Linked DNA regions of Homo sapiens: region 2 is linked to region 1. Evidence: fine-mapped expression QTL. A gene starts in region 1. The other region holds a variant in brackets. All regions are shown on one strand. Distances are between the middles of the regions. Region 1 holds the start of WASHC3 (WASH complex subunit 3). Region 2 has its middle 30 kb from the start of MYBPC1.

What was found. PIP is the estimated chance that this variant, and not a neighbour inherited with it, causes the effect.
Region 2: its variant is fine-mapped to the expression of WASHC3 in rectum (CEDAR, PIP 0.95).

Annotation. Positions count from the first base shown.
Region 1 is chr12:102,060,584-102,063,495 of GRCh38, forward strand. It overlaps WASHC3 (WASH complex subunit 3), which reads right to left and starts at 1,408. Exons shown (of 7, transcript NM_016053.4): 1 at 1,329-1,408; 2 at 665-763. The coding sequence starts at 1,379. RefSeq lists enhancers at 1,067-1,116, 1,127-1,326.
Region 2 is chr12:101,563,273-101,566,184 of GRCh38, forward strand. No RefSeq gene overlaps it. Among named protein-coding and RNA genes, the nearest start is that of MYBPC1, 30 kb to the right of the region's middle. The variant A/AT (reference allele first, on the strand shown) is at 1,521.

The DNA of each region.
Region 1 (2,912 bases):
GTAAAATAAATTTAAACAATGTGGTTTTGGGGTACGGGAACGAATGACAAATTGCAAAATAAAAACTGTTTTCAACTGTGAAATTTTAGAAGCCGGGCGCGGTGGCTCACGCCTGTAATCCCAGCACTTTGGGAGGCCGAGGCTAGTGGATCGCCCAAGGTCAGGAATTCGAGACCAGCTTGATCAACATGTTGGAACCCCGTTTCTACTAAATATAAAAAATTAGCCAGGCATGGTGGCGCATGCCTGTAATCCCAGCTACTCAGGAGGCTGAGGCAGGAGAATCGCTTGAACCCGGGAGGTGGAGGTTGCAGTGAGCCGAGATCGCGCCACTGCACTGTAGCTTGGGTGACAGAGTGAGACCCTGTCTCACAAAAAAAAAAAAAAAAAAAAAAAAAATTAGATTTCCTATTGTTCCCTTTAATCGCAATAAGCCTGACTGACCTATCTCACAGGGACCTCTAGAACACTAACTCAGTAGAGGAGGGGTGCAGGATTGATTTTAACAGAGTAAAAGAGAACCTAAGATGTGTTAACACAATTGGGTGATGAGAGGTCACGGTACATGAATAAAGACTGTAATTCTTGTTTTACTCCATTTGTCAGTCTCAGCAGTGAAAGGTGATTTCCAGGCGACTCTATAAACCAGTATCACCGGACCTACCTCCTCACAAACTGTAGAAAAGCGGTTGAGGAACTGTACAGTGTGCACCACAAATTGGTTTAGAAAAGCCACCGTTCTTTTCTGTTGAATAGCTGGCACCTGTGTTACGTAAAAACAAACATGGTTCATACAGGAGGAACGTACACAGTGCAAATCTTTTCATATTTGGACATAATCACGAGGCACTTTGCTGTGTGATATGAATTTCTTGAAGGACTGGGAATAGTCATTAACTTGTTTCCTAAGCTGTGGGTGGGGTGTCCGAAGATGACAGAGGTGCACAAAAGTTTGAGAACAGGCTCTAGACTCACTGGTACGAATTTTGGCAGGCAAAAAGCACCACACATAAACACACACAAAATCTTGGGGGCTGAATAAGAGGTAGGGCTAGCTATCGCAACCGGCGTGTGTCGCCGGCGGCAGAGAGACAAGCGAGATGGGAAGCGACAGTTGGGAGATGCACACCGTCTCCTTAATCAGCTCAGGAGGGACCCCATTTCAAGGTGGACTGTGGGGCTCTCCCTCCTGAGGCCCCACAGGCCTGTCACAAGGGCCCGAGGCCGTGACAGGGTGGGGACTCGGAAGGTGGGTGTCTCCCCGGAAAGCTGCGTCTTCCCCATCCTCCTCCCGGCTCGTCGGGAGTCTAGCACCGTCTTTTACAAACCTTGGTCAGGTCTATGCCTGACCCCATGAGAGGAAGCCCGTCCTCATCCATCTCCTCAGCGGGCGGTGGACCCCGAGTTCACCCACAAACCCCTCCCAGATGGGGCCCGCCCAACCCGGTAATCACGTCTCAACTTTCCCCCCAAGTGCCCGCCTCCGGGGCCCTTCCCGCCGGAAGAAAGCTTCTCCGCTCACTAATCACTCGGCGGCTTCCGGAGAGCCCGCCTCCTCGCTCGGCATTCTGGGATTGGTAGTTTTAGTCCAGATTGTGACGTCAATTTCGGGGTGGCGCGCGGTGGTGCAAGGATGCAGTTAGAGCACTGAAATCTTAGAAAGGAGGCAACAAAACAAAACAAAAAAACAAAGCCAGAAGTTGCGTCCTTTTGAGGTTATCCCTACTTAGTCCTGTCTGTTATATAATAACTCCGTCATTCCTTGAGCAACAATTTTTTTTTTGTTGTTGTTAATCCTAAGTGCCATATACTCTGCTAGGCTTTTACTGGGAAAACAAAGATTGAGTTTGATTGCTGCACGGGAGAGGTTTATGCCCTGAAGAATGAGAAATAAGACCTACTTCCAAAGCGTGTGTGTGTGTATACACACAAGTTCTCGCTATTTCCCCAGGCTGGTCTCGAACTCCTGGCCTCAAGCGATTCTCCTGCCTCAGCCTCACACGATTCTCCTGCCTCAGCCTCACAGAGTGCTGGGATTACAGGCGTGAGCCAACGCGCCTGGTCTTCCAAAGGTTTTTAAAACATGAAATAAAATGTCAACTACTAGATGTGAGGCACAAACCTACGGAAGTGACTGCCACTTACAGGGAGCATCAAAAAGATGAAGACCAAGACTGCAGTGGGCAGTTTTGTTTTAAAGATGGGGGGTCTCGCTTTGTTACCCAGTCTGGCGTGCAGTGAGGATCATAGCTCACCTTAGTCTCAAACCCTTTGGCTCAAATGATCCTCATGCCTTGGCCTCCCTAAGTGCTGGGATTATAGGTGTGAGCCACTGGCACCTGGCCTGTTGGTTTGGTTGAAGCAAATAATCCCATAAATGGAGAATGGTAGGAAATGAGGTAAGAGTGTTACTGGTGGAGGGTGTCCAGGTTCTTTTGAACAAAGAATTGGACAAAACGCACAAATCAAGGAGAGAATGAACCAACAAAAGCAAAGATTCATTGAAAACCAAAGTACGCTCCACAGTGTACTGGATACAGAATCTTCTTAGGTCCAAATACCCACTAGAGATTTCCCATTGGACACTGGTGTTCTCCTCATGCAAATGAAGTGGTGGCCCACAATCAGTCTGATTGGTTATGGAAAGCAACCAATCAGAGGCTGAAGTAAAATGACAAAGGTCATACTCCTATACAAACATCTGATTGGTTGTGGAAAGCAACCAATCATTGGCTAAAGTGATGTTACTTAGTTGCACTTCTATGCAAAGGAAGATTTGGCCCGCAATCAGTCTGATTGGTTGAGGTACTTTCAATTTCCATCTGCCTGTCAGAAAAGGTGGGGATTTGCAAAGGGAGTAGCCGCTGGTCCTTTTGTTACTTAGGTGTGGAAATTTGGGGTTTACCTTTTGA
Region 2 (2,912 bases), 500 kb before region 1:
AAAGCTGTTGATCATTGCCATCAGCATGAAAACATTCTCTAGAATCTTTCATGTAAAAGCAAAACAAAGCCTGTCTTGAGCATTGTCTTTGAGCTGCCTCTCCTTCACACATGACAGTGTCTTGAGTCATTGGAAGCTGATGCTTCCACTTCCTCACCTCCGTCTCAAGTCACTTCAATTTGGTTTCCTTTCCTCCTATCCACTAGGACTCACCAAAGTCACTGGTGACTTCCATCATGCCAAATTCAGCAGTCATTTCTCTAGTGTTATTTTCATCCCTCAACAGCATTTGGTACCTTTGGCTTTCTTTCTTTTAAAACTTTTCTTCTTTTCAGCTTCCCTGCTATCATACTCTACTTGTTTTCTTTTTAGCTCTCAAGCCTCTACTCCTCAGTCCCCTTTACTAACTCTGGTCTGCCTGTAAATTTGGAGTCTCAGAGTTTGTTCCTGGGCCCGCTGTCTTCTGTAGCAGCAGAATTTTAGGACATCTCATCTGGACCTGTGGTTCAATTGATATGCCAATGACTCTCAAATCAATACCTCCAGCCCTGAACTCTTCCCTGAATGAACTCTAGATTCAAACAGTCAACTGCCTACTTAATCTCTCCACGTGGATGTCTGTACCAGGCATCCCAAACAGCATGTCCAAAACAGAACTTTTTACTTTTTTTCCCCAAATCTGCTCCCTCTTCTGTCTCCCCCATCTCAATAAATGGCAATATCACACATCCAGAGACTCATGCTAAAAATTTATGAGGTCCTTGATTTCTTCTTTTTCCCCCACCTCCCTACATTAATTCATCAGCAAACCCTGTAAACTCTAATCTCCAAAGCATATCCCAAATATTACACATCTGTCCATCCCCTTGCCACCAGTATCATCCAAGCCAGCTAGACAGATGTAAAAACCTGTTAGCTGATCTCCCTGATTCTGCTGCCACCTGCCCCATAAATCCAATCTCATCACAGCAACAGCAACCAGAAAGTCTTTTTTTTTTTTTTTTTTTGAGACGGAGTTTTGCTCTTGATGCCCAGGTTGGAGTGCAATGGTGCGATCTTGGCTCACCGCAACCTTCACCTCCTGGGTTCAAGTGATTCTCCCACCTCAGCCTCTTTGTTAGTTAGGATTACAGGCATGTTATCTGGGATGTTTGTTATAGGCATGTTTGTTAGCTGGGATTACAGGCATGCACCACCACGTCCGGCTAATTTTTGTATTTTTAGTAGAGATGGGGTTACTCCATGTTGGTGAGGCTGGTCTTGAACTCCGGGCCTCAGGTGATCTGCCCACCTCGGCCTCCCAAAGTGCTGGTATTACAGGCGTGAGCTACCGTGCCCAAACCAAGTCTTATTTATTTACTTATTTTTTTAAAAGTCTTGCTCTTGCCTAGGCTGGAGTGCAGTGGCATAATCATGGCTCACTGCAGCCTCAACCTCCCAGGCTCAAGCAACACTTCCACCTCAGCCTCCCCAGTAGCTGGGGCCACAGGTGTGTGCCACCACGGCTGGCTAGTTTTTGT[A/AT]TTTTTTTTTTTTTGTAGAGACGGGGTTTCACCATGTTGCCCAGGCTGGTCTCAAACTCTTGAGCTCAAGCAGTGTTCCTACCTTGGCCTCCCAAAGTGCTGGAATTACAGACCTGAACTACTGCACCTGGCCCAGAAACTCTTAAAAAATAAAATAAATCATTCCATTTGTCTCAGTTTGTGCTGTTATGACAAATTTCCATAAACTGGTGGCTTACAAACAACATAAATTTATTTCTCACAGTTCTGAAGGCTGAGAAGTTCAAGATCAAGGTGCTTGGCCAATCCAGTATTTGGTGAGGATCCACTTCCTGGTTTTACAGATGGCCATCTTCTTGAATCTTCACATGCTGGAGTGCGGAAGGACGGCAAGCTCTCCTGTCTCTTGTCATAAGGGCACTAATCCCATTCATGAGGCTCTACCCTCATGACCTAATCACCCCTGAAAGACCCACCTCCTAACACCATCACATTGGAGGTTAGGATTTCAACATATGAATTTTGGGGAGACATACACATTTGGTTCATAACACTACTCCTCTTCTTAAAACCTTCCAATGGAAGGTTTTAAGTCATTTATTTTCCCCTACACTTAGAATAGACTCTGAAATCTTTCCTGAACTTCAGAGTGCTGCAGGATCTAACCTCTGCCCATCACTCCAACCTCATTTTGTAACTCCCTGCCTTCCCCTAAACTCCACTCACACCGACTTCCTCCAATAACTCAAACTTGTTCCCATTTAGGGACTTCGCGTTGTCTGTTCCCTCTGCCTCTTCCAGAAACAGTCTTCTCCTTGATCTTTGCCTAGGGATGTGAAGTGTGGACAAAGATGTAACAATAATAAATCTAGAAGGGGGAAGTTCCGTACATACCCATCTCTGCACAGAGTTGCATTTAAAGAAGCTAAAGTTGGCCGGGCGCGGTGGCTCACGCCTGTAATTCCAGCACTTTGGGAGGCTGAGGCGGACAGATCATTTGAGGCCAGGAGTTTGAGACTAGCCTGGCCAACATGGCGAAACCGCATGCCTACTGAAAATACAAAAAGTAGCCGGGTGTGGTGGTGCACACCTGCAGTCCCAGCTGCTTGGTAGGCTGGGGCAAGAATCGCTTGAACCTGGGAGGCGGAGGCTACAGGGAGCTGAGATTGCACCACTACACACCAGCCTGGGTGACAGAGTGAGACTCTGTCTCAAACACAAAACAAAACAAAAAAACAAGAAGCAAAAGTCAACAGAAAAAAAATTATAAAAGTCTTCCACTTTTGCTTGCATCTCTCAAAGAAATTTCAAAAAAAAAAACCCAAATGCATATTTCACTGCAGCACTTATTAAAATCCTCTCTCCTGTCTCATCTACCTCCTTTGCACTCTGCAGTTGCAAACCTTTCTCCAG